4 separate regions of the Homo sapiens genome follow, and regions 2, 3 and 4 are each linked to region 1. The links come from fine-mapping of genetic effects on gene expression. A gene starts in region 1. Each other region holds a variant in brackets. All regions are shown on one strand. Distances are from middle to middle.

The links.
Region 2: its variant is fine-mapped to the expression of C11orf68 in esophagus mucosa (GTEx, PIP above 0.99).
Region 3: its variant is fine-mapped to the expression of C11orf68 in fetal neocortex (Walker 2019, PIP 0.95).
Region 4: its variant is fine-mapped to the expression of C11orf68 in whole blood (TOPMed, PIP above 0.99). The same link has a PIP of 0.9 or more in breast, esophagus muscle, fibroblasts, lung and tibial nerve.

What each region holds. Positions count from the first base shown.
Region 1 is chr11:65,914,153-65,922,252 of GRCh38, forward strand. It overlaps C11orf68 (chromosome 11 open reading frame 68), which reads right to left and starts at 4,910. Exons shown (of 2, transcript NM_001135635.2): 1 at 4,758-4,910; 2 at 2,658-4,066. The coding sequence starts at 4,879. The coding sequence ends at 3,307. It overlaps DRAP1 (DR1 associated protein 1), which reads left to right and starts at 5,274. Exons shown (of 7, transcript NM_006442.4): 1 at 5,274-5,391; 2 at 5,628-5,700; 3 at 5,796-5,889; 4 at 6,191-6,310; 5 at 6,417-6,510; 6 at 6,732-6,820; 7 at 7,178-7,411. The coding sequence starts at 5,350. The coding sequence ends at 7,283. RefSeq lists enhancers at 1,108-2,307, 1,348-1,907, 1,611-1,755, 1,908-2,467, 4,027-4,946 and 1 more, a cis regulatory region at 1,678-1,689 and a silencer at 4,664-5,733.
Region 2 is chr11:66,007,379-66,015,478 of GRCh38, forward strand. It overlaps CST6 (cystatin E/M), which reads left to right and starts at 4,630. Exons shown (of 3, transcript NM_001323.4): 1 at 4,630-4,906; 2 at 5,448-5,573; 3 at 5,939-6,127. The coding sequence starts at 4,667. The coding sequence ends at 6,022. RefSeq lists a silencer at 1-274 and enhancers at 932-1,726, 6,112-6,687. The variant C/T (reference allele first, on the strand shown) is at 4,741.
Region 3 is chr11:65,004,343-65,012,442 of GRCh38, forward strand. No RefSeq gene overlaps it. Among named protein-coding and RNA genes, the nearest start is that of ARL2, 5.8 kb to the right of the region's middle. RefSeq lists an enhancer at 2,098-3,297. The variant CAAA/C (reference allele first, on the strand shown) is at 4,632.
Region 4 is chr11:65,981,204-65,989,303 of GRCh38, forward strand. It overlaps the pseudogene LOC100420020. Among named protein-coding and RNA genes, the nearest start is that of EIF1AD, 17 kb to the right of the region's middle. The variant A/G (reference allele first, on the strand shown) is at 4,630.

The DNA of each region.
Region 1 (8,100 bases):
TCACTCACTCATTTATTCAAGAATGTTTGGCTGAGTGCAGGGGCTCATATTTGTAATTCCAGCACTTTGGGAGGCTGAGGTGGTAGGATCGCTTGCGCCCAGGAGTTCAAAGCTGCAGTGAGCCATGATCATGTCATCGCATTCCAGCCTGGGCAGCATAGCAAGACCCTATCTCAAAAAAGAGGCCGGCCGCGGTGGCTCACGCCTGTAATCCCAGCACTTTGGGAGGCCGAGGCGGGAGGATCATGAGGTCAGGAGATCGAGACCATCCTGGCTAACACGGTGAAACCCCATCTCTACTGAACATCCAAAAAATTAGCCAGGCGTGGTGGCGGGCACCTTGTAGTCCCAGCTGCTCGGGAGGCTGAGGCAACAGAATGGAGTGAACCCGGGAGCCGGAGCTTGCAATGAGCCGAGATTGCGCCACTGCACTCCAGCCTGGGTGATAAAGCGAGACTCATCTCAAAAAAAAAAAAATGTTAATTTGGCATCTGCACTAGGTTGGGCCCTATGCCGGATGCTGGAGGATAAAGCATTGTCACTGTCTGAAGGGATCTTACATACAGATGAGAGCAGCAGGCAGGCGGGAGCTGTGGGAGCCTAGGGGACATGCCTGCAACACTTGGGGTGAGGAAGGATCCGGAAGCATCCTGAAGAATTACACCTGAGCCAGTGGGTCTGCAACGTGGCGCCAGCCAGGGAAGTGGGCGAGGGTAAGCTAAGCAGAGGCTACGGCACCAGCAAAGGCGTGAAAGTGAGAAAGGCCACCATGTGTACAAGAAAGTCACACGCAGCTCAACGTTCTTGGACAAGGAGTGCAAAGCAGGGAATGGAGATGGGATGAGGCAGAAGGGTCCAGCAGGGGCTGGAGTCGCCAATTACCTCATTCATTCATGTAATAACTTACGGAGTCGTTGTTCTGGCCAAGCACTGTGGTAGGCTCTGGGAACAGGGCTGAGATCTAGCCACTGTTCCTGCCTTCACAGAGCACAGTGTGGGCATGGGGCTTAGGGGCCAGCAGGAGACAGACATCAAGCCATTACACAAGTCACCACACACTCTGGCCATCAGGGCTGCAAGGCAGGTGCTCGAGCAGAAGGAACAGCCCGAGGCCCAGGGCTGTGCACCAGGGGGTGAAGGAAGTAACAGATGGCTCCAGCTGGGTGAGCATGGGCAGAAAGGGGTGCCCGAGGGAAGCGGGGAAGTCTATGGGAACCAGGTCACGGCCAGTGCAGGAGAGCAGACTCCATCCTGCAGGCTGTGGGGAGCCATGGAAGGGCTTTTGGCAGGACATGGCCACTCTGCAGGAGGGATCTGTTGACCTGGCTGTGGAGAACGGAGCGGGGACAAGAGGAGGGTGGAAGTGGCTTGGGAGACGGTGAGTTGTGGGCTGGGGCAAGGCACAGGGATGAAGAGGGGCTGTGTGTGTGACACACTCAGCTATGGAAGAAGCCAGTGCTGTTGACCCCACTTGGGCATCTCTGTGGGACCCATGAGGTACCTTGGCCCACTTTGGTGGAGTGCAAGGCCCTGGCAGCCCGAGGGAGGCAGAGCACCAGGCTCCAACTCGGAGACCACCCAGCTCTGGGGACTTCCCAAGGCTGGGCAGAGGGGGACTCAGCCCTGGGGAAGCTCAGGGTGGGGAGGAAGCTGGAGAGAGCACTGAGCCAGCATCTCATGACTCAGCCACTTCCACCCAGTCAGCCCGGTGGCATCTCCGCTCCCCTGCTCTAAATTCCGATTCGGTGAGACTGCTGGAGGCTGAGTCAGTCCCGGCACGGCACGAGAGCTGTGTCCCAAGGGGCTCCCTGCCAGACACCCTGGCCCCCAATCAAGGCCAGGGCCAGGCACGGGGCTGGAGAGGTGGCGGGGTGCAGGAGCCAGGCTCCAAGGCTACAGCAAGTCCCAGCAGAGTGGGGCGGCCCAGTGAGATCACGTAAGTGAACATGCTTTGTGAGTTATGAAAAGCTCCCTGTTTTCCTCAGTGGGCTCAGGGACCTCATTGCCCGAGGAAGGGACTGGGATGCAAGTCCTAGCTCTGCCCACCTCATCGCATGACACTGAGAAAACTCCTTTCCCCTCTTGGCTTCAATTTCCTTGACCACAGAATGGGGCCAACATCTCCCAAAGGGGTTGGGAGAATTAAATTTAATGCATATGAAAGCGCTTTGCAAACTGTCTAGTGGGCCCTATGATGGTCAGGGTGGTAGGAGAGGAGAGTATGAATGGCAGGGCTTCCAGAGAGACTACCTAGGGTTGTGCAGGTTGTTCACTGCACAAGGATGTCTAGCCTAAGGTGCTGAAATCCAGCCCATCCCATCCTCTGCTCCCCAAACCGCGTACCCCGGCCTAGGACTGCTTGGACTTGGTACCTTTCTCTAATATGCACAAATGCACCCTGAGGGCTAGCAGTGGCCCCTTAGACGTTCCTGGAGGGGTCAACCCCTGGAATTATGGGAAATCTCTGAGAAACTGATTACGGATGGAGGGGAAGTGGGGCTGGTTTTGCAGAGGTTCTTAGAGACAGTGCCTAACCTCAGCAGTGAGGCACAACTTATTGCTAGGGGCAGCTATGGGGGCCTGGCCGGGTCAAGGGGGTAGTCTCTCCTGGCCCTGCCCCTCCCTAGCAACGAAAGCAGGTAACCACCAAGACAGTATTTTAAAAAACACTCAAGACACAGACCCAAGCCGGGTTTTATTGAAATGCCAGGAGCAGGCACATGTCAAAGTAGCCAAGGAAGGGGGGACAGTGGTACAGGCTGTGTAAGTTGGCAGGGATGGGCAAGCCTCATGTCCATGGTCCTGGCATCCCCTCTGCCAGGGGATAAGTAGGCACAACTACCCTCCCCTCAAAATGGCATGCTCAGGCCAGTGGGGCCCCTACCCCTGGACCATGAAGGCTCCAAGAAGGGCTGGAAGCACTAAGTTTTCTCTCTCCTGAGGGGGAAGGAAAGAAGGGGAGATGCAGGAGGAAGGGGAGGTATAGCGGGGGATGAGCGTTCCAAGAAGTCTCTCCTTCTAGGTGTCTGCACCCAACTCATGGTGCTGGGCAGTGGAGAGGAGCAGCATTACAAAGGGAGGCTGAAGGCTCATCCCTCAGGGAACCGGAGCCCCCCAGCCTGTGGGGCTTGTGTCAGCCCTGAACAGAGGGCAGAAGTTCAAGGGGACTGAAGATGCAGGTAGTTCCCAAGTGACCTAGGAGTCCCCAGAGCTGGGGGGTGTGGCCTTCATAGGACAAGGAGGAAGACAGGAGGATCCAACCCCAGCATGGAGGGGGGAGTGGGCAGTCTCCCCAATTTGGCCCCCCTAGGTCAGTTCCACGTTGTTGGCACGGTCAAGCACTCGGGAGCCACGGGCACTACCCCCAAGCTGGAAACGGCTCTCATAGAGAGTGGGGCAGAGGTGCCAGCGATTGGCCCGGTAGATGCCCAGGTAGGTGTAGACATCAGGCTTGTAGGTGAGCAGGCACTTAATGCCCGCTGCACGGATGGCTGAATCCGCCTCCAGTACACCCAAGCGGTCCGTGAAGTCGTCCGTGTAAACACAGATGACCTGGCGCCCACCCTCCTTGGCACGTGGGCTCACCTTGGCCACCTGAAGCTGGCCTTCAACCACGGCCCGGGCAATGCCAGCCCAGGCGTGGTCCAGCTTGAAGCCCGGTGCCAGATGCATAAGCCACTTGCCCGAGAGCACGTGGTGGGTGATGGCGAGCTGGCGCAGGGTACCCGGTGTGATGGGCCGCCCACTGGTCTGCAGAGCTTCCCAGGCTGCCTGCAGGCCCTGCACGTCCCCGGAGTTGGGGCTGTAGCCCTGCCCATACACTGCAATCCAGCCCACAGGCTCTGAGTTGGGTGAACCGGGGTCCCCATAGCGGGTAACTTGGGATGGTGGGTACTTGGCCAGCCAGGCATCCAGCTCAGTGGCAGGCGTTGTGCGGGCATCAAACACTAGCCAGGGGTCCATGTCAGCTGCCATGGCCTCTGCAGCCAGGTGCTCGGCGGTGAAGCCATCCTCACGGCCACCTGGAGAGCCCTCCTCTTCCAGCTCCTCACCTGGTTCCATCCTGCTGTGAGGGAACCGAGTCAGGGCAGGGTCTGAGACAATAACTACAGATGCCAGGCACTGGATTAAACTGTGGCCTTGAGTAAGAGTTACTGTCGATGCGCCTCAGTTGCCTCATCTTTACAATGGGATAACAACTGTTCCTGTCCCGTAGATCTGCTATGAAAATTAGATGCCTGAGGAGTCAGCGCTCCAGAAGGGTTGCTGCAGTTATTACTATTCTCCTTGACTTACAGAAAAGGAAACTGAGGCTGAGAAAAAGGACTTGCCCAAGGTCACACCTGCAGTGCGTGGCAGGGCCGAAGGGTGAATCCAGGCGTGGGAGCAACCAGCCCCAGCTACACCTCCCGGCCCTGCCAAGGCCCCCTTTTCCTGGCAGGTATCCGGTGCGCTGGCATTTAATAGAGGAACGCAAAGAAGCGCACGTTCGCGCAGCTCCCGAGGCCGGCTCTGTAAGGCCAGGCCTCCCAGGCAGGCGTTATCGGGCCCACTTACAGACGAGGACGCTGAAGTCCAGAGAGGTTACAGGCCGTTCCGAGGCCAATGGGGCGGTTCCCAGACTCGAACCAGGGCTTGTTAGAGCCTGCAGGAGAGCCAGGCTCCGGCCGTGCCGCGCCCGCCGCCATTAACGCCCACGGGCCCGAGCTGTGCTCCCGCCCCGGCCCTGCCCTGCCCCTCCCGCCGCCCGCAGTCACCTCCGGCCTTCGCTGCGTTCGACGCCGGCCCAGCCCCGGGCCCGGCTCCGCTCCTGCCGTGGCTCCGCGCCACCGCCACCGCGCCCCACCCCCGCCACGGCCGCCGCCGCCGCCGCCGCCATCTTAGCGCCGCGCCACCTCAACAACAACTTTATAGACAGGCGCAGCCACAGGGCGGAGCCGCGGGCCTCAGCGGCCGCAGCGGCCGCGCTGTGGGGCGGGGCCGGCAGGGGAAGGGGCGGGGCCGACGGGGAGGTGCTGACTCGGGGGCGGGGCCATCGCGGGAACCCCGGGAGGGGCGGGCCGCGGGGGGCGGGGCCAACGTTCGCTCTTCTGGCCTTGGGGGCGGGCGGGAGCGGCGGTCCAGACTGGGGAGGGACGCGCACCGGCCAGGAGGCTTCAAGAGGAGGGCACTAGGGCCCTGCGAGCGGCGTCTTAACCGGCGGCGCTAGGACTCCGCGGGAAACGGCGGGGGCGGAGCGGGCGGCACCAGGACCCAGGGGAACCGCGACGGGCGGGCGGCGAGCAGGCCCGGGAGCCGGGAGGCTGCGGGCGGCGGCGCTGGACCCGACGCGGCGAGAGAGGCCCCGAGATGCCGAGCAAGAAGAAGAAGTACAACGCGCGGTTCCCGCCGGTGAGCACGTGGCAGAGCCCGGCAGGAGTGGGCCCGGCTCCCGGGTGGCTTGGGCCCAGTTCCCGCTGGGCAGGCGGGCGCGCCGCGGTGTTCGGGGGCCTGGACGCCCCGCCCCCTCCATGCCCTCCCCGCGTCCGTGTCCCCCGCCCCCTTTCTCCGGGGATGCCCCTTCCTCCCCCAGCACCCCCTTAGGGGACGGTGGCGACGGGGTCTGAACTCTGCTCCCCCACCCGCAGGCGCGGATCAAGAAGATCATGCAGACGGACGAAGAGATTGGGAAGGTGGCGGCGGCGGTGCCTGTCATCATCTGTATCCTGCCGGGGGCGGACCGGGTCGAGGGGCGTGGGGGAGGGAGGCAGCGGGTCGCCCTCTCCTGCCCCGGAGTTCTCCTTGACGCTCCTCAGCCCGGGCGCTCGAGCTCTTCCTAGAGTCGCTGTTGAAGAAGGCCTGCCAGGTGACCCAGTCGCGGAACGCGAAGACCATGACCACATCCCACCTGTGAGCGGCGAGGAGCCGGGAGGGGCCGGCGGGTTTGGCGCGGGGAGTTCACACACTGAGGAAGGCAGAGCCTGGGTGGCGAGGGAGGTGGGCGGCAGCCGGGACACCAGCAAGGCCACAGACTGGCAGAGGAGAGGCTGGGCTTCCAGGCAGAGGGAGCCACCTGAGTAAAGCAGGGCAGGCCCGGGAGCGGAGATCGGCCCGGGCTCCAGCCTGACATCTGGGGCCCCTTGCTGCCACCCACTGCGGGTTTGGGTGTCTGGGCCCCTCTTGAGTGCCAGCCCCTCCTCACCTCTTCCAGGAAGCAGTGCATCGAGCTGGAGCAGCAGTTTGACTTCTTGAAGGACCTGGTGGCATCTGTTCCCGACATGCAGGGGGACGGGGAAGACAACCACATGGATGGGGACAAGGGCGCCCGCAGGTGGGGCCAGGGCCTGGCATACAGTGGGGAAGGCCAAGGCCACAGGGCTTGGGGGTGGCCAAGGAGTAGGGAGCACTCCGGGCAGATGGACTGTACCTTCCCAAAGGGGCCGGAAGCCAGGCAGCGGCGGCCGGAAGAACGGTGGGATGGGAACGAAAAGCAAGGACAAGAAGCTGTCCGGGACAGACTCGGAGCAGGAGGTGAGTGAGGCCCCAGCCCTTCGCCCTGCCCTTGGTGATGGGACAGGCAGCCTCGCCCCAGGCTGAACTGGCAGGAGGCCAGCTCTCATCCTTTTCTGCAACCTGTTTGCTCACTGGTTTATTTGTAAATTGGGGCTATGAGGGTCTACTGCTGTCCCTGCCACTCCCAGTGATGGGTTCGTGTCTTTTCTTGTCAACTCTGACCTCTGCGGTGCTCACAGGATGAATCTGAGGACACAGATACTGATGGGGAAGAGGAGACATCACAACCCCCACCCCAGGCCAGCCACCCCTCTGCCCACTTTCAGAGGTGAGCAGCCCAGAGGCATGGGAGGGTGCTGGCAGACTCCCCAGAGCCAACTTACCCCTCTTGTTCTCCCTGGCCCCTTGGTCTTGTTGATTGTGGCAGATTTGTGGGGTGGAAGGAGAATAACTGAGGAGGGCTTGAAGGCAGGAGACTGTTCTCCCGAAAGATCCTGCTCCACCCTGCCAGGGCCCGTGGGTGGGGCCTGGGCCTGCCCTGCGTGAGCTGCCCTGGGCCTTGGCCGCATGGATCTGGAGGGTGGTGGTGGGAGGGTCAGATGGGGGAGGGAGGGTCTTGGCAGCTGCCCCTGTGGAGGGCACGGTGGGGCTCAGGCCTGACTCTCTCCTGCCTTCTGCCCTGCAGCCCCCCGACACCCTTCCTGCCCTTCGCCTCTACTCTGCCTTTGCCCCCAGCGCCCCCGGGCCCCTCAGCACCTGATGAAGAGGACGAAGAAGATTACGACTCCTAGCGCCTTCTGCCCCCCAGACCATAGCCCCTTTTAGTTGGTTTTAGTTGCTCTGGGGGGAGGAGAGAAGGTAGAGCTGTTCTTAAATTTATTAAAAAAAAAAATAAAAGGGAATCTCAGTGTCTGTTCCAGGCTCTGCGCAGGACGTCATGGTTGCCATCCCATCCACCCACCTGCCTTCCCCACATGAAACTGGGAGCTGGGGCCGGGTGCGGTGGCTCACGCCTGTAATCCCAACACTTTGGGAGGCTGAGGCGGGCAGATCACCTGAGGTCAAGAGTTCAAGACCAGCCTGGCCAACATGGTGAAACCCCGTCTCTACTAAAAATACAAAAATTAGCTGGGTGTGGTGGTGCATGCCTGTAATCCCAGCTACTAGGGAGGCTGAGGCAGGAGAATCGCTTGAACCTGGGAGGTGGAGGTGGCAGTGAGCTGAGATCACGCCACTGCACTCCAACCTGGGCAGCAGAGTGAGACTCCATGTCAAAAAAAAAAAAAAAAGAAACTGGGAGCTGGGGCCGCGTCAGTGGCAGGTGAGGTGGCAGCGAGGGGAGAGAGGGGTCATCCGGGGAGGCTGGAGGCCCTGGGTCTGCTGAGTGCACCACAGCTGCGGACAGAAGGGAGTTGGGAGAGCTTGCAAGTGCTGGGCATGCGGGGGACACTTGCCACGTGGTGCTGCTGACCCCCGGTGGGCTGCTGACCCCCGGCGGGCTGCTGCCCTGCTCTGAGCAGCCCCTTGTCTCTCTGATGGAGACTGTTCTGCCCCCTGTAGTCTGCTGTGAAGGGATAAGTGGGACAGGGAACAGGTACAGGTCTTGGA
Region 2 (8,100 bases), 93 kb after region 1:
TCTTTCCTGTCACTCCCAACCTTGACTGGTGGCAGCCTTGAAGAGCCAGCCAGGCCCGATTCTGGGGCTTTGCTCCCCATGCGATCTGGAGCAAGTTGCTTCACTCCCCTGAGCTACAGCCTCCTCTGCCAGCTGATAACAGGGTTGTGAAGATTCAACCAGTGAATCAGCAGCGCTTAGGAGCGCTCCTCCCCAGAGGGGAGCTTTAATCCCTGTTGGATTACAGGTTTCCTTGCTGAAAGATCTCCTTTCCAGGATATGGGGCTACAGAGCCCTGGGGGGAGGGCAATATCCTCTGCCCAACTGAAGGTTCAAGGAAGAGGGTTCTGGGGGAAGCATCGAAGCCTTGGAGAGCCTGATCCCAGAGGGAAGGAGATGTCAAGAACCTGCCCTGGTCATCTCCACCCATCAGGCCAGGGGCAAGAGAGGGGTGCTGTGGACAACCTGGGGTGGGATGTCTGGGCCACTGCAAAACTGGAGGCTCTGCCCTGTGGCCAGTACATTTGACCGACCTCAAGCTCACGCTTGGCGCAAACCTCCTGGAAGCCAGAGTGGTCCAGACGGGATGGAGTCAGGCCCTGGGAAAGTCTGCTCAGGGACACCCCATCTGCAAGAAACAACCCCTACACCATGCACAGCAGACCTCAAACCCCTGTGGAGCAGCCCAGGACTCATGCACCGGGACCCACCACTAACCTTTCCCCTTTGATCTCCCATTTCCTCCTTGTAGGAAGAGATAATAGTCATTGTCTGTGCAGAGCTGCTATGGGAATGAAAGAACATATATTGAATCCCTGGCGCAAGGCCTGGCACACAGCAAGAGTTCTTACCATTGTTAATCCTCCCCACCTTTTCTTACCAAGATACCACTTCTAGCTGTGTGACCTTAGACAAGTGTCCCGACCTCTCTGATTAACTTCTTCATCTGCAAAGTGAGGATAATGTGTACTCCCTCAGGGTGCTTGTGAGAATCAGTGGGTGAAAAGTGCTCAGAAATTGCTAGGTTGTACTGCAAAAAAAGTCCTTTGCATCAGCACAAAGCAGAGGCAGGTGGAGTGGGTGCCCTTGGTGAGTGGCAGACAGGCCTTGGCTAGTTTTTGAGAGAGCTGTTGGAGGTACCTGTGGCCATGGCTAAGCTCCAAGTGATGACACAGCAGGCCCAGGGGAGCTGCCTCTCCCACCTCGCCCCTGTGGCACGATCCTGGTACTCTTCCTCTACCCCTCCCAGGCTTTCAGCTCAGAGTCCTGGCCAGGCGTCATCCTCCTGATCAACTCAAGCTCGGCCAGCACTTCCACAAACTGGAGTCTGTCCCTTTAAGCCAGACACCTGAGGCCGCCAGGAACTTGTGACGGTTCCTTGGAATCCCAGGAAGATGGCAGAGTTGGTTTTCCACAGCTGGGCTGAGGAAGTGAGGTGGGTAGCAGGCTGGCAGCTGCCCTGGGCAGTGAGTGACCGCTGTGGTCTAGGTCTCTGTGTGGGAAATCACTTCCTTTTGTGGTCCTGGGATTCTAAGGCCCAGAATCAGGAAGGGAGGGTGACACGCTGGATGCCTACATACAATATCCATCACAGTGACAGTTGCCAGCTGCTCTTTACGTACTGTGACCTAGCACCTCTTCCAAGCCCCAGTGAAGCCCCTGGAGGCTCTAAGCACTGCAAGATCTTAGTGCCCCAGGGACAATAAGCCCCGCCCCCCAGCAACATGGAATTACAAATACAAACTACACTGAACTCTAAAATGCAGACAAATAATTCCAAGGCCTGCCTGTAATCCCAGCATTTTGGGAAGCTGAGGTGGGAGGATCTCGTGATCTCTTGAGGCCAGGCATTCGAGACCCACCTGGCACTACTGTGAGACCCCATCTCTACAAAAAAATATAAGAATTAGCCAGGTGTGGAAAAAAATTAACCAGGCATGGGGGCATGCGCCTGTGGTCCCAGCTACTTGGGAGGCTGAGATGGGAGGATAGCTTGAAGCCAGGAAGTCGAGTTATAGTGAGCTATGATAGCGCCACTGCACTCTAGCCTGGCTGACAGAGCGCTGTCACAAAAAAAAAAAAAAATTCAACAAAATCCAGACTTTTCTTGCGTTGACTACTTCAACACTGCTTTTCATCTGTTCCTTTTTTTTTTTGAGACAGAGTCTTGCTCTGTCACCCAGGTGGAGTGCAGTGGCACCATCACTGCTCACTGCAGCCTCGACCTCCCAGACTCTAGTAATCCTCCCACCTCAGCCTCCCGAGTAGCTGGGACCACAGGCGTGCACCACCATGCACAGCTAATTTATTTTAGATTTTTTGGTAGAGACGGCTCACTATGTTGCCCAGGCTGGTCTCAAACTCCTGGCCTCAAGTGATCCTCCTGCTTCCGACTCCCAAAGTCCTGGGATTACAGGTGTGAGCTACCGTGTGATTAATAGATCACCACCTATTAATAATAATCAATTAATTATTGGAGTCTTTTTTTTTTGAGATAGAGTCTTGCTCTGTCACCCAGGCTGGAGTGCAGTGGGTGCCGTCTCAGCTCACTGCAACCTCTGCCTCCCAGGTTCAAGTGATTCACCCACCTCAGCCTCCCAAGTAGCTGAGACTACAGGTGTGCACCACCACACCCAGCTAATTTTTGTATTTTTAGTAGAGATGGGGTGTTGGGAGCCGAAAGGGCCAAAGGGATTGTGACCAACTCAGCATTCCACTGAAGGCTATATGATCAAACAGCCACCTGTTTATCACGAATGCAGGATGTGGGCAAACTCCCACTGCCCTGCCACCAAAAGGTTTGCTGAGGGCCTTACTCCTTGGCACTGGGGTCCCTGAAGTTATCTACTGAGAAAATTAGCACCTATTGTTCAAAGGATGCAGTCTCACAAGCCTGCTGTGAACCAAAGTGCTGACCGACAATTACCTGACATACCCGACAATCACCCTCCCCCTTTCTCGCTATCTCTTTTGCCTACTACATACAGAGGGCTGTGTAAAGCTCAGGGCCCTTGTCCACTAGAGGCAAGGTGCCCCCTGACCCCTTCTTCCAAATATACTCTTTTGTCTCTTGTCTTTTATTCCCACGTTTGCCCGGCTTTGTTCAGTCCCCCTAGGTCCGTGCGGGCTATGATGGGGTTTCACCATGTTGGCCAGGCTGGTCTCGAACTCCTGGCCTCAAGTGATCTGCCCACCTCGGCCTCCCAAAGTGCTGGGATTACAGGCGTGAGCCACCACACCTGGCAATTATTGGAGTCTTTAAAAACACAGTCATGGGCCTTGTTTGCTGGTACCTCCAGCACATGCTCACTGTATCCACGGGACAGCCAGATTCGAAACATCAATATCAGAACAAACTTAGGAGATAAGGTGTCTTTCAGACGAGGGCACGGAGGCTCTGTGTGGGAGGTTGAGGGACTTGCCCAAAGCCATGCCGTCAGTAAGATGGCAGAGCTGACATGACTGACACCCCCTCCTTCTGGGCAGTTTGTGTCCTGTGGGCTCAGTCTGGTTTAAGACCACAGATTTGACTTAGACTGTCAGCACACACAAGCCAGTGTCACCATTTATTTCCTGCCGGTGTCTTTGGGCAAATCCATTTTCCCTTCTCTGTAAAGTGGAAACTATTTTTTTTCTTTTTTCTTTTTTTTTTTTGTGAGACAGAGTCTCTCTCTGTCACCCAGGCTAGAGCGCAGTGGTGCCATTTTGGCTCACTGCAACCTCTGCCTCCCAGGTTCAAGCAATTCCCCTGCCTCAGCCTTCTGAGTAGCTGGGAATTCAGGTGTGTGCCACCACGCCTGGCTAATTTTTGTATTTTTGGTAGAGACGGGGTTTCACCATGTTGGCCAGGCTGGTCTTGAACTCCTGACCTCAAGTGATCTGCCTGCCTCGGCCTCCCAAAGTGCTGGGATTACAAGTGTGAGCCCTCATGCCCGGCCTTCTTTTTTTTTTTTTTTTTTTTTTTTTTTTTTGAGTCAGCGTCTAGCTCTGTCGCCCAGGCTGGAATGCTGCAGTGGTGAGATCACGATTCACTGACTTGAACTCCTTGGCTCAAGTGGTCCTCCCACCTTGGCCTCTCAAAGTGCTGGAATTACAAGCATGCCTAGGTGCCTGGCCAGGTAGAAACATTAGTCACTCGCGCTCCAGGAAGGTTGTCAGGCAGCGCTGAGCAGTAATGTGTCCTACTCACCTGCTGTTTATCCAGCACCAGACCTCTTCTAAGAACTTTACCTGTTTCAGCTCACTGAATCCTCACAACACCCATTGTACAGAAGAGGAAACTGAGGCAGCGAGTGGTTAAGTGACTTCTCCGAGGTTACACAGCTAGGAAATGGTGGCAACAGTAAGAGCCCACGAAGAGCTGCGGTTGGTAGTTCATTCTGGACAGCCCTCCCGTGAACCGTCCCTGTACTGGCACTTGTTGCTGGGGACTGTCGCTGTCCTCTCCCTCCCCGGGCCAGGTGTGTCCTGGAGGGCAGGGAAGCGTCTTGGCACGCGGGTGCGCGCCGCCCCCTCGGCCTCCTGGGCTCCCTGAACCTCGCAGGACCCCGGCAACTTCGAGCCCCGCCCCAGCTCCAGGCCGCGGGGGCGCATCGCGGGCGTCGGGCGGGGCGGCCCAGCGGGTAAAAGCTGCGCGGCCGCAAGCTCGGCACTCACGGCTCTGAGGGCTCCGACGGCACTGACGGCCATGGCGCGTTCGAACCTCCCGCTGGCGCTGGGCCTGGCCCTGGTCGCATTCTGCCTCCTGGCGCTGCCACGCGA[C/T]GCCCGGGCCCGGCCGCAGGAGCGCATGGTCGGAGAACTCCGGGACCTGTCGCCCGACGACCCGCAGGTGCAGAAGGCGGCGCAGGCGGCCGTGGCCAGCTACAACATGGGCAGCAACAGCATCTACTACTTCCGAGACACGCACATCATCAAGGCGCAGAGCCAGGTGCGGCGGGCGGGGTGCTGGGAGGGGACACCCGGCCCAGATGGGGGAGGCCACAGGCGCTGCCCCAGCGTGCATGAAGGGGGCCTAAAAGCGCAATCGGGATATTTTCATGCAATATTTTAAAAATCGAATTAATGCTAAAACTCCACGATGGACAACCATCTAAATTTCAAGGAAAGACATAATTAAACCCTGTATTGCACTACCTGCCTTCCTGGCTTGCCTGGTCCTAGTCTCTGCCCTGATGGGGTGGATCGGGGAGGAGGGAAGGCAGGTGGGGACAGTGGGCAGCTCCCTAGATGGGGCATGTCTGATGTCTGCCAAGGCTGCTGGTGGGGCTCAGCCTCCAGGCCTCTCCACCCTCCATCCCCACCAGAACTCCCCCCCCCACCCCCCCCCACCCCCCCCCACCCCGTCTGAATCATCCCCTCTCCCTCTCTCCCCACCTGAGTGCCTGGGGGCAACAGGAGAATATATCAAGAGGTGAGAAGTGAGGATCAAGGGTCAAGACCCCTGACCTGCCCCTACCCTATGCCCCCAGCTGGTGGCCGGCATCAAGTACTTCCTGACGATGGAGATGGGGAGCACAGACTGCCGCAAGACCAGGGTCACTGGAGACCACGTCGACCTCACCACTTGCCCCCTGGCAGCAGGGGCGCAGCAGGAGGTAACAGCTGGGCTCCTCCAGCCCCAGCCCTCCCCAGAGCCTCAGGCACTCAGGTTGTCCATCCTGAACTGGTTTGGCTGGACACGTAGATGTCTAGATGTCTGGCTGAACCTGTCGTCCTTCTGGATGAGTCAGCCTCTGGGCCAAGATGGGGTGCAGAAAGGAAGCTGGGGCTTCCCTCGGGAATGGGGAAGTTGGCTACCAAGATCTGGAGTCTAGCCCCAGACATGCGGCTTGACATCCGTTGGGTCAGTGATTGTCCCTCTCTTGGCCTGGAGCAGCCTGGCAGGCAGAGGGCTGGCTGTTGGGAGGAGACAGGTCGAGGCTGGGCTCACCCCTCCTTCTCCCCCATATTCCCTCCACAGAAGCTGCGCTGTGACTTTGAGGTCCTTGTGGTTCCCTGGCAGAACTCCTCTCAGCTCCTAAAGCACAACTGTGTGCAGATGTGATAAGTCCCCGAGGGCGAAGGCCATTGGGTTTGGGGCCATGGTGGAGGGCACTTCAGGTCCGTGGGCCGTATCTGTCACAATAAATGGCCAGTGCTGCTTCTTGCATTGGTTTCTTCCAAGTGCTTCGCTTCTGCCCCCATCCCCCACTCCCACTTCTGGCAGCTCCCAGCTCCCCAGCCCAAGCTGAGAGGTCACCCTGCCACCTGCAGCAGAGCTGCTGCTGTCCCAGCCCAGACAGTGCTGAAGGTGCAGGGCTGAGCCTCCAAATGTGGAGCCCCCAAACACCCCAGCATCACAGGCATAGAGGAACAAACCTTAGAGCCCCCACACACAGCCAGAGACTCCCAATATTCTCAGAGGTCAGGGGTGGCGGCAGACTCACAGAGGAGGGGCGATGGCCTGAGATAAGAACAGGGCCGGCTGCCTGGGAGCACTCTGAGGAGGAGTCTGTGCTGTGCTCCCACTCAGCCCCAGGAGGAGCTCATGGGTGGCATGGGGGGCTTCAATCAGGCAGTGTCCTCACCCAGGACACTGAGCTCCCAGCCTATAAAGATTCCTCCACCTGCATGTGGCCCAACGATGGCAGAGTCCCTGCAGGCCAAGAGACCATGAAGGCTAGGACAGTGCCTCTCAGTCCACACTGTGGGCTCCACGCCACAAGGACGCCTCTCTTGCCTTGCCCTGGGCAAGACGCCTGAAAGGGGCTAGACTAGGAGCCGCAGAGGGACAGAGATTGTCTAGCGCCCACAGGAGGGGTGAGGGGACAGATTCAATGTAATGTCATTTAAAGAAAACAGCATTGCAGCCGGCCTCACACCTGTAATCCCAGCACTTTGGTAGGCTGAGGTGGATGGATCACCTGAGGTCAGGGGTTCAAGACCAGCCTGGTGGCCGGGCGCGGTGACTCACGCCTGTAATCCCAGCACTTTGGGAGGCCGAGGCGGGCAGATCACGAGGTCAGCAGATCGAGACCATCCTGGGTAACACGGTGAAACCCCGTCTCTACTAAAAATACAAAAAATTAGCTGGGTGTAGTGGCGGGCGCCTGTAGTCCCAGCTACTCGGGAGGCTGAGGCAGGAGAATGGCGTGAACCCGGGAGGTGGAGCTTGCAGTGAGCCGAGATGGCGCCACTGCACTCCAGCCTGGGCGCCAGAGCCAGACTCCATCTCAAAAAAAAAAAAAAAAAAAAAAAAACCAGCCTGGCCAACATGGTGAAATCCCATCTCAACCAAGAATACAAAAATTATCTGGGTGTGGTGGCAGGTGCCTGTAATCTCAGCTACTCAGGAAGCTGAGGTAGGAGAATCGCTTGAATCCAGGAGGCAGAGGTTGCAGTGAGCCGAGATTGCGCCACTGCACTCCAGTCTGGGAGACAGAGCGAGACTCCATCTCAAAAAAATTAAAAATAAAAAAAGAAGAAGAAAACAGCATTGCAACATTTGCACATCTGAATTTGTGGCTGCAATTCATACCCCCCCATACATATACACACGCACACACCCAAAGCACAACACACCAGACATACACACACAGACACCCAGAGCACACACTCAGATGCTGGCAGATATCACATGCATACCCAGAGAAACACAGCCTAGCAACTCATGAGCACAGAAGCAACACACCCTAGAGAAACAACCTGGAGATGTACACACAAAACTCAAACACAACCCAAGGACCCACATGCCACACCCAGAGGTTCCTCAGATGCACAAGCACACACCCACACTTGGGATATGGGCCTTGGGGGTGCTAGGTATAGGCACCATCAGGCCCAGGCAGGCAGCACTGCAGTGGCTGCGGAGAGCATCCCACGGTCCTTCCTTTCTGACAAGGCCTCACACCCTGCTTGTGCCTGCCTGGTCCCCTGCCCAAGGCTGGGGCCTAATAAGCAGCAGCCCCAGCTCCCAGGCCCTGCTGTCGGCCTTTGGAGGCCAGATTGGGGTAGAGACGGGGAAACGGGAAGTAGACCCTGGGTCCCACCTGGGAGTGAGAAGCTGAGGGGTGGCATTTGACAGGAGCTGGGGACCCAGGAGACAACATCCAGCCCTGCTTCTGCTCAAGCTTGTCAGATGTG
Region 3 (8,100 bases), 910 kb before region 1:
AAATAAAATAAAATGAAGGAACTTGACAATGACTTCTCAGGGTCCTTCTTGCTGTGCTGGAGGCCGGGGCCTGCCTGTGCCTCTTGGGAGGCCTTTTTCTAAACAAGGGACTAGCAATGAACCGAGGCTGGTGCTGCAGACAGAGACCTGGGTGCCTCCCCCAGCACTGCCATCTGCCTTCCACTACAGGGCTCAGTCTTCCCTTCCCACCACCCGTCAGGAAGCAGTACCTATGAGATGCCCTTTTTTTTTTGAGACAGAGTCTCGCTCTGTTGCCCTGGCTGGAGTGCAGTGGCGCAATCTCAGCTCACTGTAACCCCTGTCTCCCGAGTTCAAGCAATTCTTCTGCCTCAGCCTCCCGAGTAGCTAGGATTACAGGTGCCCAGCACCATGCCCTGCACCACACCCAGCTAGTTTTTGTATTTTTAGTAGAGATGGGGTTTCGCCATGTTGGTCAGGGTGGTCTCAAACTCCTGACCTCAGGTAATCCACCTGCCTCAGCTTCCCAAAGTGCTGGGATTACAGGCATGAGCCACCGTGCCCAGCCAAGATGCCTTTTTTGATTTGGGCCTGGTGTGGGAGTTGGAATCTGTGGGGATCTCAGAGAGCGGGAGCCGGGTCTGCCTCAGTTTGGGGGGCTGAGAAACCTGATGGTAAGAACAAGGCTGGTGAAGCCCTGCTGCTTCCTGTCCGTGTGAGCAGCTAGAAAGCAATTCACAAACCTCTATCCTTATTTCTATCACGCAGCAACTATTTCCTGAGCATCTCTTATGTGGCAGGCCCTGCTCTAGGTGCTGGGAGACATCTGTTTTTTAAAAAAAGATCCAAATCCTGCCCTTGTGAAATTTCCATCCTAGGGAGGAGCAGGGAGACGATAATTACATTAAGTGAATTATCTAGTCTGGTGGGAGTCCACAGGTACCAAGGGGAAAAGAGAGCTAGGTAAGGGCCATGGGGAGTGTGGGGTAGGGGATTTCACATGTAAATAGCGGGGTCAGACTGAGCCTCGTTGAGATATTTGAACAAAAAAAAATTGTTTCTGACATTGGACTTTTGAGCAAAGAATTAAAGACGAGAGAGCCGTGACAGTGAGGTACCGGCTGGGGTCGGGGGGCAGAGTGGTGTAGTGGACTCCTGGGACTGGCAGGGTCCAGGGAGCAAGAGATTGGGGTGGAGGCCACGGGCCATTCATGCAGGGGCTCATAGGCCAGTGAGAACCTTGGGCTTTTACTCTGAAAGATACAGAGAGCACCAGAGAGCTCTGAGCAGAGGAGAACATGATCTGATGCATAGGTTAAAAGGGTCCCTGGTCGGGCTTGGTGGCTCACACCTGTAATCCCAGCACTTTGGGAGGCCGAGGCAGAAGGATCACTTGAGGTCAGGAGTTCGAGACCAGCCTGGCCAACATGATGAAAACCCACCTCTGTAAAAAATACAAAAATTAGCCGGACGTAGTGGTGCATGCTTGGAAGGCTGAGGTGGGAGGATCACTTGAACCCAGGAGGTAGTGGCTGCAGTGAGCCGAGATTGCACCACTGAGCAAGACTCTGTCTCAAAATAAATAAATAGGCTGGGCATGGTAGCTCACACCTGTAATCCCAGCACTTTGGGAGGCAGATGTGAGCAGATCACCAGAGGTCAGGAGTTCGAGACCAGCCTGGCCAACATGGCGAAACCCTGTCTCTACTAAAAACACAAAAATTAGCTGGGTATGGTGGTGGATGCCTGTAATCCCAGCTACTCGGGAGGCTGAGGCAGAAGAATCGCTTGAACCCAGAAGGCAGAGGTTGCAGTGAGTCGAGATCACGCCACTGCACTCCAGCCTAGGTGACAGAGTGAGATTCCATCTCAAAATAATAATAATAATGATAACAAATAAAAATAAAAAATAAAAAGGTTGGCCAGGCGCAGTGGCTCATGCCTGTAATCCCAGCACTTTGGGAGGCCGAGGTAGGTGGATCACCTGAGGTCAGGAATTCGAGACCAGCCTGGCCAACATGATGAAACCCCATCTCTACTAAAAATACAAAAATTAGCCAGACATGGTGGCTCATGCCTGTAGTCCCAGCTACTCTGGAAGCTGCGGCACAAGAATCATTTGAACCCAAGAGGCGGAGGTTGCAGTGAGCCAAGATCACGTCACTGCACTCCAGCCTGGGTGACAGAGTAAGACTCTGTCTCAATAAATAAATAATTAATTAATTAAATAAAAAAGGGTCCCTGTGCCTTGGAGCAGGGGAGCAGGGAAGCCGGTCAGGAGGCTGCTGCAGCGATCCAGGTGAGTGGGTGGGGGGGTCTGTCATGCGGAGAGAAGAGTGGTACCTGCCTCTTAGGTTCCGGAGTGAGGGCACAGCAGGACACGGGCAACCAGGGGCAGCAGCTGCGCTCCTGCGTTCATTCACCAGGCCTGGCCCCATGGAGGCAAGAAGCATCTAGCACAGCTTTGCTCCTGAGGGGCCACAGGCAACAGGTGAGGTGTACGAGCACATGGCTGTTGGAAGATCTCAGATTTTCAAGTCCTTTCTACCTCCTAAGGTTCTGGAAAAGCTTGCAGATGTCATGTGCCTTTGCGTGGTGAATAACACCTCCTTTTGTCATCTGGAGTTGGAGAGGATGCCTCTGCTGCCTCCCACACAGGCAGCTGGGCTAAGACCTGTAATGCAGATGCTTGAACACTCTGACTTGTCTTATGAGGCATGCAGCAGTGGCATGCAGGATGTACACACCCACTGAATCATCACTGACCAGCACTGAGGACCTGGCTGCCTTTGGATATGTAAAACCTACATAGGCTGAGCACAGCAGCTCACGCCTGTAATCCCAGCACTTTGGGAGGCCGAGCTGGGTGGATCACTTGAACCCAGGAGTTCAAGACCAGCCTGGCCAACATGGTGAAACCCTATCTCTTCTAAAAATACAAAAATTAGCCAGGCATGGTGGTGCATGCCTGTAATCCCAGCTACTCGGGAGGCTGAGGCAGGAGAATCGCTTGAACCCGGTAGGTGGAGGTTGCGGTGAGCCAAGATTGCGCCACTGCACTCCAGCCTGGGTGACAGAGTGAGACTGTCTAGAAAAAAAAAAAAAACCTGCCGGAAGATTAGCAGTGGGAGGGCAGAACTATGGTCTGTATGCAGTTGCCATCTCTGTGCTTCCAGTTCTTTGCTTATTAATTAGTAGGACAAAACCTACACTTGGGTAAGCTGCCAGCACGTGCTTGCTGGTGCCTCTGTCACAGGCATGTGGTCCAAAAAATAAGACTGGCATCCTAGATTGTCTTATCAGAGAGGGAAAACAGGTTTTCTGTCTTCTCATTAAAACTGTAACTTTATTATAAACAATCTAATATAAACAATGTAGGTTAAAAGAATTAAATAGGCCAGACATGGTGGCTCACGCCTGTAATCCCAATGCTTTGGGAGGCCAAGGTGGGGAGATCACTTAAACCTAGGATTTTGAGGTTAGCCTGGGCAACAAGGTGACCCAAACCCTGCACTCCAGCATGGGCCTGGGGTCCTGGCCTTGCCAATCTCACCTGGTCACAGTGATTGATGTCAGGAATAGGCACATGACCCAAGCCAGACCAAGGAAGGACAGGCCTGGGAGTTTTGTTGGAGTTACTGGGAAAGTGACAGGGTCTGGGGATGTGCCCCCCTGGGGTGATACTAAGCTGGTGTTTCTGGTGGCCGTCCTACTCCCATGAGCGGGTTCTGCCTGAGAATGTAGCCAGCCCGGAGGACAGCAGATAGAGGAAGAGTCTGACTCCCAATGACATCGTTTGGGCCTCATGTCTGAAGCTGGTGCACTCTAGACTTGGTAGTAATTTAACTTAGATCATCTATAAGGGAAAGAGACTCCTCTAACACAGATATCTGCCGCCTCCCGGTGAAGGTTTCATGAGCAGCTGCATGAAGAATACTTCACTTGCTGCAACACTGCAGAAAAATAAGGCAAGTCCACAGAGGGCAACAAATGACAGTGAAGGGTTAAACAGGAAAACTAAGAATCCAGAGAACCCAATTTCCCATCTCTTCGTGAGACTCCTTTATAAGTGTAAGAAATCTGGAGCAATTTACACCAGATATAAGTGCTGCTTCTCACACATGAACACAATCATAACTTGCTCCTTCTTTTTCTTAATTTTCTTTTGAGACAGTCTCATTCTGTCTCATACAGGCTGGAGTGCAGTGGCGCAATCTCGGCTCACTGCAACCTCCGCTGCCGCCCACCACCCCCAGGGTTCAAGTGATTCTCGTGCCTCAGCCTCCCAAGTAGCTGGGACTACAGGTGTGCGTGACCACACCCGGCCAATTTTTTGTATTTTTAGTAGAGATGAGGTTTTGCCATGTTGGCCAGGCTGGTCTCAAACTCTTGGCCTCAAGTGATCCACCCAGCTCGGCCTCCCAAAGCACTGGGATTACAGGCGTGAGCCACCGTGCCCAGCCTCATCATTATTTAAGAAAAAAAAAATTAAAAATAAAAAAAAATAGCTGGGCATGGTGGCATGTGCCTGTGGTCCCAGCTACTTGGGATGGTGAGGTGGGAGGATCATGTGAGCCTGGGAGGACGAGGCTGCAGTGAGCTGTGATCATGCCACTGCACTTCAGCCTAGATGACAGAACGAGACCCTGTCT[CAAA/C]AAAAAAAAAAAAAACACACACACACACACACACACAGAAACTGTGTGTCTAGAGCAAACTTAAAAATAAATATTTAGATAAATAAATAAATAAATAAATAAATAAATAAATAAAATACTTGGGTATACTCCTTGCTAATGCTTAATGGCCAGCAGTTCTAATTTAAGCAGAGTCTTCTCCCCTGGCCTTTTTTCCTTCTGGTTCCAGAATATAGAATTCTGTTACTTTTCTTATTATTATAAAGGTAATCCATGAAATATAATGGCTGATTAAAATGATTTACTTTTTAAAATTAAAACTATAATGCCAAATTTTCAGGCCCGGCACAGTGGGTCATGCCTGTAATCCCAGTACTTTGGGAGGTCAAGATGGGAGGATTGCTTGGGGCCCAGAGTTTGAGATCAGTCTGGGCAACACGGCAAAACCCAGTCTCTACAAAAAATACAAAAATTAGCTGCGTGTGGTGGCACAGAACTTTAGTCCCAGCTACTCAGATGGCTGAGATGGGAGGATCACCTGAGCCCAGGGAAATCAAGGCTGCAGTGAGCCGTGATTGTGCCACTTCACTTCAGCCTGGGTGATAGAGTGAGAACCTGTCTCAAAAATAATAATAATAATAATAATAATAATAATAATAATGTGAGACCCTGTCTTAAAAATAATAATAATGCCAAATTTTTCTTTCTAGACGTTGGGTAAACATGCCTTGTTAAAAGGCTGTAGATCTCTATCCTCAAGTTACAAGCCACTTACTCGGCCCTAAGAAGTTTCCCCTTCAAAAGCAGGTTTCACAGATGTCACGATTTGGGTATTTTAATTTCACGATTCTTTCTTGTGAAAAAAAAATATATATATATATTCATATTCACAATTATATATAACTACAGCTCTATACATCTTCTTTCCTAGTTTTCTTCCAAAGGTATTTCCCAAAGATTTTATTTAAGAGTGCTCTTCTGCTCCTCTGCTTGAAAGTAAAAAAAAAAGAAAGAAAAAAAGCCAGGTGCATTGGCTCTTGCCTGTAATCTCAGCACTTTGGGAGGCCGAGGTGGATGACTTGAGGTCAGGAGTTTGAGACCAGCCTGACAAACATGGTGAAACCCCGTCTCTACTAAAAATACACAATTAGCCAGGTGTGGTGGTGCACACCTGTAATCCCAGTTACTTGGGAGGCTGAGGCAGGAGAATCGCTTGAACCTGGGAGATGGAGGTTGCAGTGAGCCGAGATTTTGCCATTGCACTCCAACCTGGGCAACAAGAGCAAAACTTCGTCTCAAAAAAAAAAAAAAGAAAAAAAAAGAGCTCTCCTCCTTTCCATGAGGCAAATGAAAACACAGCTCGTAATGAGGCCCCTTACTTGTCTTTAAATGCCTCTCCACCCAATTTCTAGCTACAGTCAGTTCTTCAAAAGTTAAACACAGGCCAAGTGGGGTGGCTCATGCCTGTAATCCCAGCACTTTGGAAGTCTGAGGTGAGAGGATCACCTAAGCACAGGAGTTCAAGACCAGCCCGGGTAACACAGCGAGACCCTCGTCTCTACAAAAAATTTAAAAAATTAGCCGGGCTTGATGGCATGCACCTGTAGTCCCAGCTACTCAGGAGACTGACGTGGGAGGACTGCTTGAGGCTGCAGTGAGCCATGATTGTGCCACTGCACTCCAGCCTGGGTGACAGAGTGAGACCCTGTCTCTAAAATATGTTTAAAAAGTTAAACATAGTTGGCCGGGCGCGGTGGCTCACGCCTGTAATCCCAGCACTTTGGGAGTCCAAGGCTGGCGGATCACGAGGTCAGGAGATCGAGACCATCCTGGCTAACGCGGTGAAACCCCGTCTCTACTAAAAATACAAAAACTTAGCCAGGCATAGTGGCGGGCATCTTTAGTCCCAGCTACTCGGGAGGCTGAGGCAGGAGAATGGTGTGAACCCGGGAGGCGGAGCTTGCAGTGAGCTGAGATTGCGCCACTGCACCCCAGCCTGGGCGACAGAGCAAGACTCTGTCTCAAAAAAAAAAAAAAAAAAGCTAAACATAGTTACTTCCTGAACTCCCCCTTTTTCACAGAGCTTGGATGTTGTTTATTTTTATTTTTTTAATTTATATTCACTGAAATTCTACCATGTGGCCCCTGGGAACAACAGCATGGACAGGCAAGACTTTAAGCCAGACATTTGAACAAGTTCTTTCAATGCTACTGGTAGGAAATAAAACAATCCGAGGCTGGGTGCGGTGGCTCACACCTGTAATCCCAGCCCTTTGGGAGGCTGAGGAAGGCAAATCTCTTGAGGCCAGGAGTTTGTGACCAGCTGGCCAACATGGTGAAACCCTGTCTTTACTGAAAATATAAAAATTAGCCGCGCATGGTGGCTCATGCCTGTAATCCCAGCTACTCAGGAGGCTGAGGCAGGAGAATAGCTTGAACCTGGGAGGCAGAGGTTGCAGTGAGCCAGGATTGTGCCACTGCACTCCATCCTGGGTGACAGAGCCAGACTCTGTCTCAAAGAAAAAAAGAAAATATAGACACACCCAAGGTAATAATTTTATGTTCTCCCAAACTTCATTGCCCTGATTTTCAAACTTTTGTGACTGTGATTCACAGTGAGAAGTACACATATCTGTATAAATATCTAAAACAAATGTTTCACCAAACGCTACTTAGCTTTACTACGTGGGTAAAGGTAGTAATGTTTTCAGTTCTGTTCATTCTATTTCATTTTTGTTAATGCTACTAGGTTGAACCATTTGAAATACATCTGTGTATCAAAACTGTCAAATATGGGCAATTTCATACAGTTCAACCTATTTGTGACACTAATTTTACAATCCACTTCCTTAATGGAATGCATCTCATAGATTAAAAAACATTGCTAAGTGGGCATATTTCCAGTTAATATTATTTTTAAAACTAAAAGAGGACTGAATTTTTGTTTTTGTTTTTCATTTAATATGGCGCGGACATCTTTCCACACTGGTATCTTACAGCTCCACCTCACTGTTTTCTGTTTCTTTGAGACGGTCTAACTCTGTCATGAAAGCTAGAGTGCAGTGGCATGATCACGGCTCACTGCAGCCTTATCCTCCCTGGTTCCCACCTTGGCCTCCTAGGTAGCTGGAACTACCGATGTGCACCACTACACCTAATTTTTTTTTTTTTTTTTGAGACAGACAATTTCGCCCAGGCTGGAGTGCAGTGGCACAATTTCAGCTCACTGCAACCTTCGCCTCCTGGGTTGAAGTGAGCATGTCTGGCTAATTTTTGTATTTTTTATAGAGATGGGAGTCTCCCTAAGTTGGCCAGGCTGGTCTTGAACTCCTGGGCTCAAGCAATCCACTCACCTCTGCCTTCCAAAGTGCTGGGATTAGACATGAGCCACTGCGCCTGGCCCACTTCACTGTTTTAAGGGCTTCATGAATTCACATGCACCTACCCCGGCTCAGGTAACCTGCCCTCACTGGAGGCACTTAGGTTT
Region 4 (8,100 bases), 67 kb after region 1:
AAGCTGCTGTCACAGCTGAAAATGACCGCAGCCTGGGCTAGAGCCCAGGTGGAGCCAGGGTAGAAAAGACCAGCTTCAGCTCTGCAGCCGACTAACTTTCTGGCTCTAGTAACTGGGCAGACTACGTGGTGAACCAGGGGCCTCCTCGTTCGCGCCATCTTGCTTCCTCTCTGCATCTCTGGCTCTTGGTCCTAGCCCAGAGACTTCCCTTCTCTGCCCTGGTGTACTCTGCTCTGCTCCCCAGCTGTGTCCTGCCCATGTGCCCAGGGCTGGGAGGGGTTGGGGACTACCAAATCCCTGGAGGCCTGAGCCCCCAGAGCAGACAGAACCCAAGGCGGCTTCCCACCTCTGCTGCTCGGTAGCCGGACACCAACGGTGCTTCCCCTGCCCTCAGGTACCTGAGGGGCAGCGATGGCTCAAAAGCTGCCCTGAGGGTCAGTGAGCCCTCAACCAGGGCCTCAGCCAGGTGGGTGGCACTCAGGGAGGACAGGGTGCTTATGTTTGCCCTCTATGTTTCCCTTCACTGCTGCCTGACCTGAGGCAGGTCACCAAGTCTCTGTCTTACCTACAAAATGTGCGTGTTGAGGGTGGGGGGCGTGATCTCAAGACTTCTAGGGCCACCCTACTGCATAGTTGAGGACTGATCCTTCCACAGCTTCAACAAAAATGTACCGAGCATCTGCGAGCGCTGCCTAAGAACCCAGAGCAAAGCCGGACAGGCTGCCTGGGCCCATGGGGCATGGGCCCTAAGAGCAAGCAGCCACTGCGCAAGGGCACAGCCAGGTGTGAAGGATGGGACGAGGCCCAGCTCCTGCCCTCCCAGGGCCCATCTCTCCTCGTGATGGGCCTTCCGGGTGTGGTGATGCCAACCCCAGCCCACAGCCCAGCAGTCCAGTGCTGTGTGGCCTTGGCTCTGAGCAAGACCAGGATGGGGTCCCCCTCTTGCTCTCGGGGCCTGCCCTCTCCTGTGCGCACCCCCTGCCCAGGTCCTCCAGGCTCCTCCAAGCCTCTGCCTGTGGCCCCAAACCTGCCCCACCCAGCCCCAGGCAGGGCCCTGCCTCTTCCTCCACAATTCAGAGATGCTCTGGAGGGTGCAGGCAGGCCCTGCCAGCATGGGCTCCCTGTGGACCTGGGAAAAGGTGCCCTTCTGGGCAGTGGACGCAGGCCTCAGGAGCACAGCCTGGTGGGCAGATTCGCCCCCATTCATCCTACAGAGTGGTCCCTGGCGCCCCTCAGTGCCAAACCCACGATTGCCCCGGGGCTTTAGTTCCCTGCCCTGCCTTCCCCAGCTGGTCCTGTCATTGTCCCTTGGCATCCTCAAGAAGGGCTCAGCCCAGGTGTACATTGGGCAGTGGACTGAAGGGGACAACCAGGGTGAGGACCTGGCTTTGCTGGTGTCGGGTCTCTGCGTTTCAGTGCCATGGGTGGGAAGGGCGGGCTGGTCCCAGGAAAGTGGGGATTCAGCAGTAAGTTCCCAGGAGGAGCAGGATTAATTGGCTGGAGTTCCCAGAGAGACCCACCAGCAGCCACGTGGACAGTGGAGAGCAGGGTGGGGCTGAGGACCCTGGCAATGCAGAGGTTGCTAAAAAGATTTTTCGAAACCGTGATACTGTTTAGAACCCATAGGAGAAAAATGATAGCTACTAAGATTAAAAAAAAAAAAAAAAAGCTACAGAACCCATAGGAAAAGTTGCAAGCGATACAAAGTGTTTCCCCTTGAACCATTTGACAATCGGTGGTCAAGGGGATTCCGTACCGCCCCAACTAAGTGTGTGTTTCCTGCAAACAAGGGCGTTCTCCCACATAAACTAACGCCACCTAGGACATTGGGAAAAGTACCGTTGATGCGTCACTTCCACCTCATTTTAGACCCCAACTGTCCTAATGTCTATTTTTTTTTCTTTGAGTCGTAGCCTTATTTATTTACAAGCACTGGATGAGTCCCTGGCCACCCCCCAGGACAGAGCAACCCTACGCAGCCCCAGCGCAGTTAAATACAGTTGGGAGCTAGGGGACTGGAGGGAGGAATTAAGGGAAATACAGGACTAGGGACAAATACTCTGTTAAGTGGTCACATACGGGCCAGATCCTGTAGTCTGCAGAGCCACGGCTGTCACCACCCCCACACCAGGACATGAAAGGTAGGGAGAAGAGCCTGAGGGAGCCGAGGCAGGCCCAGGGGTGCCCACCCGTCGTGCCATAGAACGTGGAAGGGACAGGAATGGCTCTCAGGGAGTGTATGGGAAGGACGAGGCCAGAACTGTCTTCTTACGGGACCCAGTTTTAGGAAGAACACCTGGTTTGCTTTTCTGTAAACACAGCGGCCTTGAGGGAGCGGCTGCCCAGCAGAGGCTCTGCCTACCCCAGACCCGAGCACAGCCTAGCTCCTTCCCACCTCTACCCAGAAAGGATGGCAGCTGCTGGCTCCCAGCTCCCTTGAAGGGACCAGGCACAGTCTGTGAGTCCTCATGGGGCTCAGGAGAAGCTCTGGACAGGGTGGCTGACCTTCAGGCAGGCCCGAAAGAGGGCCTGGCCCAAACACAGCACAGCCAGCAAGATGACAGACACCAGGCTGCATGGAGGCCTCCATGTCGCCCCGCATGCTTCCCTGAGCCAAAGCAGGTAGCAGATATGTCACTTCCACGGATATCTGCACCCATAGATGACACTTTCCAACAGTGAGGGTGACATGTGAACTCTGTCCATGGAAGAGTATTCCTGCAGTGCCCACGGATGGCCCTGACACCCACCTGAGGTTCTGGACCCCACAGTGATGATTCCTTTGCAGTAGGGCCGAGGGCAGGTAACCCGCTGGGAAGTCACTTTGCAGATGAGACAGCTATGAGGACTTCAGACATCTTTCTCCCTCGGGTGCATTCTGGATTGGAGCAGCTTTGTTGCAGGTACTGCATTGACTACAAGCTGATGAGTTCTGCCTTCCACCTTGATGAGCAGTGGGCACTCTCACTCCCCAGGCTGGTCAGGGTGAGTAGGGGGCTGGGTGTACCTCATAGAAGGGGGTATGCCTGGGGTGGGGCAGGTTTACTGGCTTCACTCAATGGTACAAAGGGGGTCAGCATCTCTGGGCCCAGCCCCACTCCCATCCCACCCTACTAAATCATTGCCAAGGGAAGCCTCTCCATCTGCGGCCACCACTAGCAGGTCACCAGCCTAGTAATATCCTTTTTACTTTTTTTAAGACAAGGTCTCACTGTGTCGCCCAGGCTGGAGTACAGTGGTACAAACATGGCTAGCTGCAGCCTTGACCTCCTGGCTCAAGTGATCCACCCACGTCAGCTTCCTGAGTAGCTGGGACCACAGCTGCATGCTATCATGTCTGGCTAATTTTTTTGCAAAGACAGGGTCTTGCTATGTTGCCCAGGCTGGTCTCAAAATTCCTGGGCTCAAGCAATTCTCCTGCCTCAGCTTCCCGAAGTGCTGGGATTGCAGTACTAGCCACACCCAGCCGATAGTAGGTTTTAGCAAAAGGATTCAGTTCAGGCAACTGCACCCATTGCAGTTCTGGCCATGAGCCACCACACCCAACCAGAATTATTTCAAAAGATTTTAAGATAGAATATTTTGACCTCACATCCCTAGTAGGATATCTATTTAAAAATTTTTAAATTAACATAATGAAATCTTAAACACATTTAATAGTCTTATTGTTAGTAATAATAATGATGATATTGGCTGGGCATGGTGACTCGTGCATGTAATCACAGCACTTTGGGAGGCCGAGGCAGGAGGATTGCTTGAGGCTAGGAGCTGGAGACCAGCCTGGGCAACATTGCGAGATCCCCATCTCTACAAAAAATTTAAAAATCAGCCAGGCATGGTGGCATGCACCTGCAGTCCCAGCTACTCAGGAGGTTGAGGCAGGAGGAGTTGGAGACTGCAGTGTTCTAGGATCATGCATTGCACTCCAGGCTGGACGACAGAGCAAGACCCTGTCTCAGAAAAAAACCAAAAAATACAAAGAAAAGAAAACTGAAGCTGTGTAACAGGTACAATGGGATTCATTATTCCATTCTATCTACTTTTGAGTATGTTTGAAAATTTCCATTATAGAACTTTGTTTAAAAAGAGAGAACAAGAACATGTTGGCTTAGCAACAGAAAAGCATACATATGTTCAGCTAAAGACATGAACAAGAATGTTCTTAACAGCACTATTTATAACAGCCCCAAACTGGAAACAACCCAAATGTCCATTAACAGAAGAATGAATAAATAGCCGGGCATGGTTCTTAGTGCCTGTAATCCCAGCTACTGGGGAGGCTAAGGATCCCTTGAGGCCAGGAGTTCAAGACCAGCCTGGTGACATAGTGAGACCCACCTCTAAAAATATTTTTTAAATTTAGCTGGGTGTGGTGGCTCATGCCTGTATCTGTAGTCCCAGCTACCCGGGAGGCTGAGGCAAAGGATTGCTTGAGCCTGGGAATTTGAGGCTGCAGTGAGCTATCCTCACACTTGTGAATGGCCACTGCACCCCAGCCTGGGTGACAGAGTGAGACTCTGTCTCTAAAAAAAAAATCAACAAAGGGTAGACATTCATATAACCGAATGAGTAACATGGATGAACCTCATGGACATGAAATTATACATACTGTTTGCTTCCATTTAATAC[A/G]AAATCTGGAAAAATTCTTTTATTCTATTAGAAGCAGTATAGAAGGCTGGGTGCGGTCACTCATGCCTGTAATTCCAACACTTTTGGAGGCCAAGGTGGGAGGATTGCTTGAAGCCAGGAGTTCTAGAGCAGTCTGGGTAACAAAGCAAGACCCTGTCTCTACAAAAAAATTTTAAAAATTACCTGGGCATGGTGGTGTGTGCCAATAGTCCCAGCTACTCAGGAGGCTGAGGCACAAGAATCACTTTAACCTGGGAGGTGGAGGTTGCAGTGAGCCGAGATGGTGCCATTGCACTCCAGCCTGGGTGACTGAGTGAGGCTCTGTCAAAAAAAAAAGCATCGTTTTAAATAATGACATAAATATAAAAAATGGCCAGCATGGCTGGGCGCAATGTCTCACGCCTGTAATCCCAGCACTTTGGGAGGCTGAGGCGGGCGGATCCCGAGGTCAGGACATCGAGACCATCCTGGCTAACACAGTGAAAACCCATCCCTACTAAAACTACAAAAAATTAGCCGGGTGTGGTGGCGGGTGCCTGTAGTCCCAGCTACTCGGGAGGCTGAGGCAGGAGAATGCCGTGAACCCGGGAGGTGGAGCTTGCAGTGAGCCGAGATCGCGCCACTGCACTCCAGCCTGGGCGACAGAGCGAGACTCCGTCTCCAAAAGAAAAAAAAAAAAAAAAAAAAGGCCAGCATGAGAATGAGTGAAAGTTCATAAACTCTTCCTATGGTGACTCACATATGGCATAAGGAACTAGCTCACTGGTTTTGCCTTCTCCTTCCTCTCTTCTGTAAGGTTCTTCATTTCCCAGGCCTGTAACTTGCTGTCTTCCCACTACGGTGCCTTCTAATAAAGAGCTTCCAAAACTAAAAACAACGTAAATCTTTGCTGCGGTTATTTTTTGACGCATCAAAAAAGGCACCAAGCCTAGATGTTTTTAAAGCTTCAAAAGTTTATTGACCGGCACCATGGCTCACACCTTTAATCCCAGCACTTTTGGAGGCCAAGGTGGGCGGATCACCTGAGGTCAGGAGTTCAAGACCAGCCTGGCCAACATGGCGAAACCCTGTCTCTACTAAAAATACAAAAATTAGCCGGGAATGGTGGCAGGTACCTGTAATCCTAGTTACTCAGGAGGCTGAGGCAGGAGAATTGCTTGGGGCCTGGGAGGCGGAGGCTACAGTGAACTGAGATGGTGCCATTGTATTCCAGCCTGGGTGACAGAGTGAGACTCCGTCAAAAAAAAAAAAAAAAGGTTATTATCTAAAGGCTTTACCTTTAGATAATAGATCATTCAAATGCTATTTAAACTACTCCAGATCAGAGAAAAAGATGGTAAGCGCTCTTAACATATTTTATGATATTAATAAAATACTGATAGCCAAATCTTCTCATTGTTTCTGAAGTTTGTTTTCTAGAAGTTCCTTCTGTCTGCTGGTGATAAACTCCTATATTCTGTTGGTCTGAATGTCTTCACCATGGTGTAGGGAGGAGACAGCCGTCGTGGCCCCCAGGGCTGTGGTGAGAATCAAAGCTGTCCTGCCTTGGGCATGTCTCCAAAGCCCAAACACACTGGGAAGACGGAGTTGGCCCCACTCAGGGTCTCCACTCAGATCAGGCTGGGTCCCACTTCCCTCTCCCTGAGCCCCGGACACATCGATGCTGTCATTGCATGCTGATTCTCCGAGTCCCTGAGCCCCGTACCCCCCGGCCTTAAGGAGCCTTGCCAGTGTCCTCCCCACCTCGCCCCTGCCCAACAGACACAGCACGCCACCTGCTCTGCCTTGGGTCCCAGGCCTTTCCCTCCTCAGGCACCTGTTCAGGGGCAGTGAGAGAAGCAAAACAGCCCTTCTGTGCCAATGCACACCCCACCTGGGGAAGGAGGCAGACAGGAGGGCTCCTCAGAAACGGCTGATTTGTCAGCCCTGGACAAAGTGAAAGGGAGAAGCAAGAAGCAGGACAGATGGGCAGGTCTCCTGCGGCCCACCCCCCCAAAAAAGGAATGTGTGGGCCGGGCGCAGTGTCTCACGCCTGTAATCCCAGCACTTTGGGAGGCTGAGGCGGGTGGATCACCTGAGGTCAGGAGTTCAAGACCAGCCTGACCAACATGGAGAAACCCCGTCTCTACTAAAAATACAAAAAATTAGGCAGGCGTGGTGGCAGGTGCCTGTAATCCCGGCTACTCAGGAGGCTGGGGCAGGAGAATCTCTTGAACCCAGGAGCCAGAGGTTCCAGTGAGCCGAGATCACGAAGCAAGGAAGGAAGGGAGGGCGCGAGGAAGGAAAGATGTGGCCATAGATCGTGAGTAGGATCGATAAGACAGAACTCCATTGTCGAAAGCTAAATTATGGCAGACACAAAGCGGATGGGAGACCCACATGAAAGAAGGCACTTGGAGCCTTCAGAGAAGAACGCAGGGAGGCAAAACCCCCAAAGGCCTGAAAGCTTCAGCAGTCACTAGAAGGGGAGCTGAATACATGTGCTGAGGGGCCCTGGGGAGACGACCCTTCCAGAGGCTGCAGTTCTTAGGTCTTACCAGCCCCTCCTTGCTGCCCATCTACCAGGTCCAAGGCTCCCTGAATCCTCAGACATTAACTACAGGGGTACCTCATCCTTGTCCAGAGCAGGGTTTCTGGGGGACACAGCCACAGACACCTCCATGTGAGTCCTCCTGCACCTCAATTTGGGTGCTTTCTAACTGAAAGACCAGGGCGGCCAGGCGCGGTGGTTCACGCCTGTAATCCCAAAACTTTGGGAGGCCAAGGCGGGCAGATCGCCTGAGGTCGGGAGTTCAAGACCAGCCTGACCAACATGGAGAAACCCCATCTCTACTAAAAATACAAAATTAGCCAGGCGTGGTGGTGCGTGCCTGTAATCCCAGCTACTTGGGAGGCTGAGGCAGGAGAATCGCTTGAATCCAGTAGGCGGAGGTTGCGGTGAGCCAAGATCGCGCCAGTGCACTCCAGCCTGGGCAAGAAAAGTGAAACTGGGTCCCCCAAAAAACAAAAAAACCAGGGCAGTTCCCCACCACCCTCCAAGCACTGTACTCCAGCTTGTAAATGCTGCTGGGGAGGAAGGCCACTTCTGATCATGCCTTGGTGAGTGAATCCATCTCTGGGGGAGTGGAACTTGTGTTCGCAGTGGTCTACCAGCATCCTAACTGCTGTTGGGGCATGTGGACCCTTTGATTGGACCAAGAATGCAGTTCCCTTATGAGACTGTAACTAGGTTAGATGCTTTCGGGTTCTGTAGCCCAAGGCAAGGTGCTGACTTGCTGGTTTTACGTGCTTAGGGTGACCTCTGCTGGTGGCTTCTCTAAATGTTGGCAGAATACACAGCCAGGAACTGCCGGTACCGTCTCACATCAGCCAGTAGTTGGAGCCACATTGCTATCAGAAGGAAAAGAGTGCTCTTCTCATACAAGAATTATTAAAACAAAGTGATGCCCAATGCTGTTCAAGAATGAACAG